Regions from separate parts of the Homo sapiens genome. Here region 1 is linked to region 2. Evidence: fine-mapped QTL for protein levels in blood plasma. Region 2 holds a variant in brackets. A gene starts in the other region. All regions are shown on their forward strands.

The links. PIP is the posterior inclusion probability: the model's chance that the variant is causal. The UK Biobank Pharma Proteomics Project read protein levels with antibody pairs (Olink). The fine-mapping took linkage between variants from a reference panel, not from the people measured, so its PIPs are less certain.
Region 1: CRH starts here. The variant in region 2 is fine-mapped to the plasma level of the CRH protein (UK Biobank, PIP 0.97).

Annotation. Positions count from the first base shown.
Region 1 is chr8:66,175,642-66,180,641 of GRCh38, forward strand. It overlaps CRH (corticotropin releasing hormone), which reads right to left and starts at 2,823. Exons shown (of 2, transcript NM_000756.4): 1 at 2,652-2,823; 2 at 735-1,850. The coding sequence starts at 1,836. The coding sequence ends at 1,246. LOC112268029 (a long non-coding RNA gene) reads right to left here. Exons shown (of 4, transcript XR_002956713.2): 4 at 4,245-4,319. RefSeq lists an enhancer at 1,709-1,778.
Region 2 is chr9:105,969,585-105,975,112 of GRCh38, forward strand. The region is part of intron 2 of LOC107987108 (a long non-coding RNA gene); the gene reads left to right. Among named protein-coding and RNA genes, the nearest start is that of TMEM38B, 280 kb to the left of the region's middle. The variant G/GT (reference allele first, on the strand shown) is at 3,346.

The DNA of each region.
Region 1 (5,000 bases), not on the chromosome of region 2:
AACTACCAAAGGCAAATGCACTGTAAAACTAATTAAATGTGCTGTTCAGTTTTAGAAATGAACAAAGGTAGTTCCTGTTCCTAAGAATAAAAGTGATTAGGGTTGACATAAGCAAAAATGTGGAGGATATTTGTGTAATTATTAAAGTCAAAATGTTCTTCATAAGAAAATTTTCCTATGTGACATTTTATAATGACTAAATTTAGTCGTCTTAAGTGGAGATGCTATTAAGTTTCTCTTATTAGATGTAGTCATTGGAAAATAGCTTAGAAAAAATAGTTTTATGGTACCAAAGTAGTAGTTTGACAGAGTGAGTTTTTCTCATAGAAAAAGAATGCAGCATTTTGGCCATACAGTTTGGAGGAATTTCTAGCTTGACACTTCTCTCTTCCTCATCTTTTCCCCACTATCTCCAATTATTTCATATATTTTAATTGATCAGGGCTAAATGTTATTTCCATTATAAAATGATCTTCCCTTTTAGAATTACCATGTTTTAGAGCTGCTGGGAGCAACTTCCTGAATTATTAACTCAACCTCAGAGAAGTAGTCCATGGCACAGAGATGAGCCCAACGTGATTGCAGGGTCTGTGTAAGCCACTGACATATGTTTGCATTTTTAGTGGAAAAATATAATGCAGGAAGTTTTGCTTTTCTTTTCTGGTGCTGAAGACAATTTGGAGGAAGCTAAGAGAGTATTTCCAGTGTATGAGCACTGAAGAGAAACAGTAAAGTCATGATTACCTTTGCAACTTTTATTAAAAATATAAGTATTCAACATTCTCTTACACAACCAAACTGACCAAGGACTGGAAAGATGTTTTATTACTGAAACGTTTACAAGAGAAAGTTGTTTCAAAGAGCTTACAGATTTAGTCTTACCCACCCAAGAGAATGGCATTCTCTTTGGCTCAGACCACAACAAAAACAATTGAGTGACTTCTGTCTGCTTTTTCAAACAAAACGTTTTCTCACAGGTCTACATTCTCTTTAAAACACCACTATAAACACCTGGAAACGGAAACTAAACGTAGACAAAACGAATAACATTGTGTTGCTGCTGCACGTGAATACACTTTGTGCATGCTAAGTAAGGGGTATAGGCTCTCTCCCTCTCTCCCTCTATGTTTCAAGCTATATAAAAATAAACAAATGGCATAAGAGCAGCGCTATGGTACAGAATACTGTATTTTTTTAAATTTTTTTTGTGCTAAATGCAGATTCTTTTTGGCCAAACGCACCGTTTTATTTCCCAATAATCTCCATGAGTTTCCTGTTGCTGTGAGCTTGCTGTGCTAACTGCTCGGCCCTGGCCATTTCCAAGACTTCCCGGAGGAGGTGGAAGGTGAGATCCAGGGAGATGGGAGGCTCCTCGGACCGCCTTTCTCTCTCCGGTGCCTCCTGGTGGCCGCCGAGGGCATTCCTAGCGCCGCGCTCCGCGAGAGCCGCGGGGCTGTCGAGCGAGCGCCGAGGCAGCAGCAGCTGCTGCAGCAACACGCGGAAAAAGTTGGCGGTCGCCTGTTCCGGCGAAGGGCGGCTGCCGCTGCCTCCGGCGAGGAGCGAGGAGGCGGGCGAAAGGGGAGCGGCCGGGCTCTTGTTGAGGTTCCCCAGGCGGAGGAAGTACTCCTCTCCCATGCGGAGCAGGACCGGCCGAGCCTGCGGCTGCTGGGGCTGCTCGGACTGCGGCGGCGGCTGGAAGAAATCCAAGGGCTGAGGGTGCTGCGGCGCCTGCCGAGCTCCCGGGACCGGCCCGCGGCTCAGGAGCGCCCTGCATGGCGGGCAGGGCAGGAGAGCCACCAGCAGGACTCCCGCGGACACAAGCAGCGGCAGCCGCATGTTAGGGGCACTCGCTGCGGCACAGAGGTGGGCGGAGGGCGGAATGAGAGAGGGGAAGAGAGAAAGAAAGAGTTGGTTAGAGTTCGCTCAGCTGGGAGGTGCACACGGGGTCTTCCTACGGGACTGCCTTAGACGTGCTGGGCTTTGGCCTCAGTGATTCGGATGGGCGCTGTCCGCGGTGCTGAAGCGCCTGGGGAGCGGGGAAAGGGGGCGCCTGCAGGGCTCCGCACCTAAGCTCATGCGCTCACCGGCCAGGAGTGACCCTTCTTTCTAGACTCTGAAAGGACGGTCCCTGCGTCCTCTTCCTAACGATCCTCAAAACTAATTTTCCCGATCCTAGAGAAGAGCCACAGATTTAAGATCCCACCCGCGCTGACTACCTCCCTTCCGGATATTTCAGCATTTTCTTCCAAATTGAGAACTACTGCCTCATGGTCCTCCCTCTCCACTTCTGCCCTTGCTGCCTTATCTCGGGGGTTAGGATAGAAGGGGGTGGGGGAGCTCCTTTACACAGCCAGCAAGGAGCAACTGGCAGCACGGGTAACGAAGAGCAGCCGTCTAAGTTTGCTTTTGCCACATCCCAGCTACTATTGTAATCTTAAGGAATAGTCCGCGAACACGCGCGCACACACACACGCACGCACGCGCGCATACACACACACACATACGCATACACACATGCATACACACACACACACGCACGCACACACATGCATACACACGTACACAGGCAGGGGCAGCCGGCTCCGCGGCGCACATCGCGGCAGCTCAGGCAACGCAAAGTTGGTGGCGTGTTCCGTCCAGGCGCTCCCTACCTTCCCAGGCGCTTCGCAGGTGAGCCGGGTGCTGCCGCCTCTCTGCAGAGAGACGTCTCCGGGGGCTTTCTCTGGAGGTTGTCTTCCTTTCTCTTTACTGTTCCCACTCTCTTTTTCTTTCTCTCCTCTCTTTCCCCTCAGTCTCTCAATGGACTTGGTCTCTGAGTTTCTCCACTCCAGAGCCTGGAGTGGGATTTTATAGTGTCGACCCTCTTCAAAAACCACGCAGCATTTGCCTAATAAGCTGACGCTCTCTTGACAGCTCGATTGCGTGCTGCCTCTGCTCCTGCATAAATCATAGGGCCCTGCCAAGGAACGAGGGGCAGAATTTTGCTATCTCAACACTGAATCTCACATCCAATTATATCAACAGATATTTATCGCCTCTTGGTGACGTCAACGAGCCCTAAAATGGAAGGGCTTCTTATGACTTGTCCATTGACAAAAATTCTTGAATGAGATTTCCCAAGTGTGAAAACATATTGACCTCTTACTATGAAAGGCCATATTAGGGGTGTGCAAAGAGACAGCGAATGGGAGGAGGAAGGGGAAGTGGGAAGGAAGTGAGGTGTCCCAGTGCAGCCCTGCCAGGAAAGCAGCAGCCAGTTGGAGGGGGTGGACCTGGATGCCCCTTCTCCTAACCTCCCTGACCAGGTGTCTCTGACAACACCTCAGTATCTGGAAATATCCCTTTGCTAGAGACAGAGTCCCACCATCTTTCTGCCTGGAAAAGAATGAAGCATCAGGAGAGGGGTGTGCAGGAACATCCAGCTTTTAAACGTCTATCTGCTTTTTCCTCCCAAGAGCAAGCACATAAAGGAGTTATGAGCCTGCAGAAGCAAGGCCAATAAATCTCTCAAAATGCAGTTCAAGTTTTTTAGATGATGACAAGAGCTACTCCCATAGTGAAGGGGCACAAACCGGGGTTAGTAAGGGGTGCGGCAAAGATTTTAGGTTATCTCAGAAACTCTCTGCTCCTTTTTTTGTCTCTCTTCTCACAATCTAAAATTAATTGTGGACTCCCTTTTCTATTCCCAAATTAAAGAGAGAGGCGGCCAGTGAGAGATGCATGAGTTAAACAAGCTTTACTTATTCTACTGAATGCAAACTCAATGAGAGGCATCCATTCTAACTTCCTAATCTATGTTGAAAAAGGCTTAAACTGCTTGACTACAGGGCTAAATTCATTAGTTACATGTTTTCATTGGTCAATATTGAGTCTGTAAAAAAAAACTCGTTCATTTCACCTCCAAATACTATCAACATCCATAATAGTATCCACATCTGGGCCACCCAGGGTGGTTCTTTTTAATTATTTCTTTTTCCAAATCCAAATGTGCTTCATGTCAGCCTGTTAAATAAATAAATGCTCTCTGACATGTCGCAGAATGGAATGGAATGCTAAGCCTGTAAAACTATATTCAATTTTTGATTAATTGACACTATCATATAGGTGGGAGGCAGTTACCTCTAATTCTGCAATTCAAAATGCAATTCCAAGTTCTTGTGCCTGTGATTCAATTCAGCTTCCAGATAACCATCAGAGTTGTTTATCGGAAATTTCCTGCTCCTCATTTCTGATTACTTCTGCTGCTTCCTTTGTAGCTAATGTGACAAATGATGCAATGCATATTTCAACTTCCATTTTGGGTCTATACCAATCCACAACTGCTCTTAGGAACAAAGGGAAGGCAGGGAGAGAAATGTTGACAGTTTGCAGAGAAGCCAGCCCATAGTTGGATCACTGCACCATGTTATGTACTTTTGACATAAGAGAACAGAGAGAATGTGCCTACTTGGAAAGATGTGAGTTGTTAATAGAAGATCATGATTATGGAAAATGGTTGAGTTTCTGGGAGAAAGCTGTGTTTTATATTGGTAGGAAAGCACACAGAACCTTAGATTTTGTTATTGTGGGCTTTTTTTTTTTTTATTAAGCTGGAATGGGTTCAACATTTTTGCTTACTTTCCTTTATGAACTGTTTTCTGACCCTGTTAGCAGATTTCAGCTTGGATGTCAATCTGGAGGTGAAACGTTGACTTGGAATAGGAAGTTTCAGTGCAGTAAATGGACACAGAAGATAAACTAGGAAAGGGATGTGGTTATGAGTTTAGCTGGGGAGGTCTGGGAGGTTCTTCCAGAGAAGACACAACAAGTTTTGGGCTCTGACTAAACCCATGCCCATACAAATCTCTCTCCCATTGGGCTATCTGGGGGATATTGTTTTAGTATAGCTCCCTCATCACTGTTGAGTCCTTGCTGTGAGGTTTTCTTGGGGTAAGTCATTAATAGAGCCAAAGTGGCTCCAACTAGGGAGTAAGGAAAAAAATGTTCCTGAACCCCAGAGG
Region 2 (5,528 bases):
CTTTCCACTCACATCAAGCATCTAAATGTTGATCTGGGGAAACAAAGACATGAAAAAAGGAAAATGAATTTGTTGTCAAATTGAAATACCACATTTTTGTATTGCTGGCTGATGTGTCTGTAATTCTCATCTGCCATTCCTTCATCATATGTAAGTGTGTGTGTGTAATTTTTCCCTCCAAACCTGCAAAACATTGCAAAACTAGATTTAAATATTTCAGGCGGACTGCACCCAGCATTTGCATTCCTCTGACTCATTCAGAGAAAAGACATCTGAGCAGAAATACAGCAGATAAAAGAGAAACCATTAATCCAAGGAAGATTACTGGCACAGAATCTTTATCTTGTATCCTTCCTGAAATGAGACAAAGATCTCACTATGTACATCCCTCTGGCTTAGCTTCAGATAGAAAGCAATATAGAAGTATAGACATGGTCCTTTTTAAAGGCACACTGCTGTATTTGTCTGAATTCTGAAGCATCATCTTTCTGTTAGATTCTTGCTTTCTTGAGTGTCTTGCCTTCTTTCTCAGCATCTTCTGCCCTGGCTTTCATTCCTTATAGTGTAGCTTTCTGACTGGGATCCCTGCCTTCCCCAGGATGTTAGAGTTGACTTTTAAAAGACTATTACATAACATCCAGGGTAGTACTAAGTGCTTGAGCCATGAGGCACTACAGCCAGAGCCTTAGCTTAATTCATTTACTGTAGGAATCTAGGTATAACTTTATTTTCTTTATCTGTTAAATGGACAAATACCTGATCCTTATAGCATACTTCAGGCACAGAAATGTTGGGTTCATTTGAAAAAGCTTTGGGAGTCGAAGTGATGTAAAAATGCAAGCTATAATATTTTAAGTATAATATTAAAAACAAGTTGAATACCAAATTAAATAACTTTTAAGAATATTAGCCCAATTTACTAAGAGCATTGAAATCAGTCTTTCTTAGGAAAGGATTCTACTGTCTTCTTAGTTAAAGCCAAATACAGTAGTCATTGCCATTGCCATTTTGAGCATCTACTGCGCTGTGTTGGGCATTATTCAGGAATTACCTTATTTAATTCCTGCAACAACCCTGAAAAATAAATGTTATCTATTAACATTTCTATTTTGCAGATTAAGAAATGGAAGTTTCGAGAGGGTAAGAAATTTGTCCGAATGTTCATAGCTAATGGGTGTCCGGATTTGAACTAAGGTCATCTAGGCTTTAAATTATTTCCAATATTTTATTCTGCTACTGCAGTTTATAAAAGTCCAATCAGGTTAATACTCAACTTTGATGTTTCTTCGTTTACATATTTCCACTCCAGATGGATGAGAATATGTGCAGTTACAAATGTATTACACACAAGGTGGTTTAATAAGCAGTTTCCAAGTTTAACAGCCCTCACTGTCATTTCCTGATGAATCGCCCCAGTCCATAGATCAAGCCTAATGCCTCTCAGTCTTACTGACAAACAGGAGCACTGGCCCTCACTCTACATACAAAGTGATGTCCTTATCCTGAGTGTCCCATGATGAAGGGAATGTCAGGTCTGAATCTCTCATAGAGAAGTGACACTAGTCTGAGATGTCTGTGGGCACTGCAATTGTCTCCATCTTCATCAATCAGAAAGGTGTTATCAAACAAGATGTGTTAAAACCTTCAGATACTCCATGACTTCTACAGTGGAAGGGATGATTATGATACTGATGATGAAGATAGAGAAGGGGTTAGCAAAGTGAGGAGCTAGAGAATAAATATTTCAACCTTTGCAGGCCACATGGTCTCTATCATTAACTACTGAACTTTGTCATTGTATTGTAAAGGCAGCTATAGACAATACATAAATGAATAAGTATGGCTGTGTTCCAATAAAGCCTTATTTACAAACAGAGGCAGAGTGCTAGATTTGGACTGCAGGTATAATTTGTTGACTTCTGACTTAAAGGAATTTGGGTCAATTATTTTGTGCAGGAATGATAGGAGTTATTCATCCCATTTTTATTTTAGTGGACCTCCTCAACCTAAGGTAAAGAGAGAATGAACAGTATACAGTATTCCCCTCTAGTCATTGTTCCTAAGATTACTAAAAAATATAAGTCAGGATGATGATGATGACGACAATAATGATGATGATTACAAAATAATGATGCTATTCACAACCATCTGAAATTGATGTAAGCAATTCTTTCTATCTCAAGCCATAATTGGAAGCCGTACTCTTCTCTGACCCCTATTCCTGCTGAGCTGCCAATGGTCATTGGCCATTTTAAAAATAATTTATCTCCATGTTACAATCATAGCAAAACCTACTGTATCCAATTAAATCTCCACTTACGGCAGCCCAGGGAGTGTGATCACTTTCTGGAGATAGATCCATATCCCTGTGACCTTATCTTCCTATACTTTGCATTTAGCTATGAAATTAAATTGCAGGAAACGATACAGTTTTGAATCATTCCATTCAAAAGGCAGAAGCCAAAAGTTCTCCTAAGAGTGACAAACACATGGACTGCTTTTTAGATGGGAAACATCAGTACTTTAAGTGGGCTCTGTAAACTGGGACAGAGGTTCAAACATCTCCAAGCCTGGTGGGGTTTGTGCTTTCAGATTTGCTCCAGCTAGATTTTATTTCCAACAAAGGCTCTTATTCAGATAAAGGGAGTTTGCCTTTCTTGTTTCCTAGGAGACTTTTTTTTTTAATAGTTCCCTGGAAAAGATTCTTCTTGAGGCATTCTCAATCTAACTTCCTCTTCTGGTTAAGAAACTGAAGAACGTTAAAACTTGAGGTTATGGAGAGTTATGCCAACTGGGACTAAACTGTGATTATTTTGTTGATTTAAACTGACAGAAAGGTGAAGTCAGAATAAAATCTTGTTTCTCCTGTAATTTAGAGGCTAGGAACCATGATGGCTTTTTCCCCCCTAATAATGTTCAAATTATCCATTCAGAGTGATTTGATTTCAGTTTGAAGCTGGAGATCGCAGTAATAATCTTTCGCAGTATGAAGCACTTATTTACGAAGTAGTCTTTGCCATTTTTAATTGCACTTTCCCCTCATGCCCTTATTAATTATCTCTCTAGTTCCTCTTAGGTCTTGTCACGATGCCAAGTATTGAAATAGAAAAGGTTTATTTATTTCCAAAGACATGCAGAACAGGACAGGTTTTACATCTTGCTGTTTTGACTCTTAAAAGGTCATACTTGCAGTGGGCAAAAAGGTGCTCCGTGTAAATTGGGACCCCCCTGGATTTTCTGCTGGTAATGCACCCTTGGGACTGTTGCTTGCCTGGGGCATCCTTGGAATCCTGAAAAAGTGTTGTGTTTTGTGAATCTAGTGAAGCTGGAGTTCCCAAATAAAAT[G/GT]TTTTTTTTTGCTCAATAATGGTCAGCAACTCCCATATGCTCCTGGGATTAGATATTATTTCCTCTCATATGACCACAGCTTTGTTTTCTTCTACTTTGCTCTGCTTAGTCAAACAAGTCTCTTCAGTGTGCCCAAACTCTTCTTAACACTTTACTGCCTCTGTGTTCATGTCATTTCCGCCTTTTGGAATGTCTTTGTTCATGCCTTTCTTTTAGTCTGTTGAAATCTTACATATAATCCTTCAAATCTCATCAAATTTTCAATTTTTCATAGAGCACTTTATCAACCCTTCTTTGCCTCTGCGAGGTACTCGGATTATACTTCTTTTGTCCTGCCTGATATTATAACCATTAGTAATCTTCTCTTAACTGTCCCAGCTTGATTGTAAACTCTCAGGACAAGAAGGTATTGACTTATTTTATATTCCCCCGGAATCTTGAATGTGTGTGTGTGTGTGTGTGTGTGTGTAGTGGGTTTCCTACTCAGGTTTGATGAACTCAACTACAACAAAATATTCTAGTTCAATTCTTGGGGATCTATTCTAGAGAAGGTTGGTAATAAAAGAGCTCCTTTGAAAGGACAGATCTGATTGTCCTACCTGGGCTTTGAACACTCCAGAGAATTAGGTGAGGTCTAAAACAAACTGGATCCTAAAACTTATTGGAAGCAGCAACACCATGGTTAGATCCTATTCCTCAGCTCAAGGTGGCAGGGACATGAGAAAATGAGATAATTATTGACAGTAAAACAAAAGAATCTCTGTGGCTGAGAGACAGTATGAGCTGAATATATATGAAGAGCGTACTTTTCTATCTGTAAATTATAGAAGGAACATTGGAGTTATATCTGTATCTTCTTGAGTTTGACTACAACCTTCTTGTACAAAAATATTATTTGTTATGAGGGTTAGAGATGAGTGTTACTCAGAGAGGCAGCTTTTATGTTTTGCTCTTTAAGAGTCTTTCCAATTCTCAAACTTACCCTTCTCTAACTTTTAGGGCAGTTGAATGTCTTCTAACTGAATGATCTCAGCAGGACATCCTGAGCTTCTAAGGAGGTTAGCATTCCAGCAAACATTTGGCTTAGAGAATTCCTAAAAAAATAGTACTCTGAAGGCAGTTAAAATTTAAGGAGCCAATAGAAGCTGTATGTGTGTGTGTGTGTGTGTGTGTGTGTGTGTGCGTGTGTGCGTATGTGTGTGTGTTTCAGCCTCTGGAATGTGAGAGCTAGTATTCTCTCTAGTAATTTGTTTTTCTCTCTCACACTGATTACATACTCAGATTTGAAATGTAATAGAGTGCATATTATGTTATTCTCAGAATATTTGAAAGGAAACCAAACATTCCTTCCTTCAGGAGTCAGTTTTCCTAGTTGTGGTGTAGAAAAAAGTGACCTCTCAGAGAAGCCGATGAAATGACAGATTACTTTTTTTAAAATGGACTTAAATTTTCTGCAATATTCTAAATCTGAATCATCTGCTGAGTAGCTTTCCTTTTTGTGTATATATTTTAAAGTGCCAGTCATGGTTGAATGTTAATAACCAATCTGGCCATTGATCTTCAAAGATACAGAATGTCTTTCTAAATGTGCTGATTGTTGTGTTTAATATAATTTTAGTTTTGTTCTTGGTGAAGAGAGGAAGGAGAGGTCAGTCATATATTTGTGGGATTTGTATGTTTGTTCTTGACATTTGAACATTTTTGAATCTTTCCTTATCCATTTAATCTTTTATCCATCAAATATTTAATCTGCGCCTATACTATGTGCCAGGCTCCGTGCTAGGAGCTGGGAAGTGTCTGTGAAGCAAAAGCAAAGTCCTCATAAGAGACAAATAAAGAACAATTTCCAAGGGGGAAAAAAAGCTTCAGACAGTCCTCCGATAACTGCCCCTTCAGAGCCACTCTTGTCTGCTACTGGCCCCATACAAACCCTCTTCCCTCCTTTTATAACCCCACAGCCCCGGAGACCTTTGTGTGCCTTAGAGGTCAGCTCACAGATGTGGCCCTGGGACGCACTCCTCTTTATCTATATTGTACTTACAAGAGATGGAGGCTCATGGGTCTTTTCTAATTTTTTCCTTTTTCTTTTTTTGATTAGCATCTGCACAAATGGCCTCAGTTCATTGCTTTAAACTAACTAATCCGGCTTGTTAAGACAGAGCTTGTCATCCACAAGTTGTTAT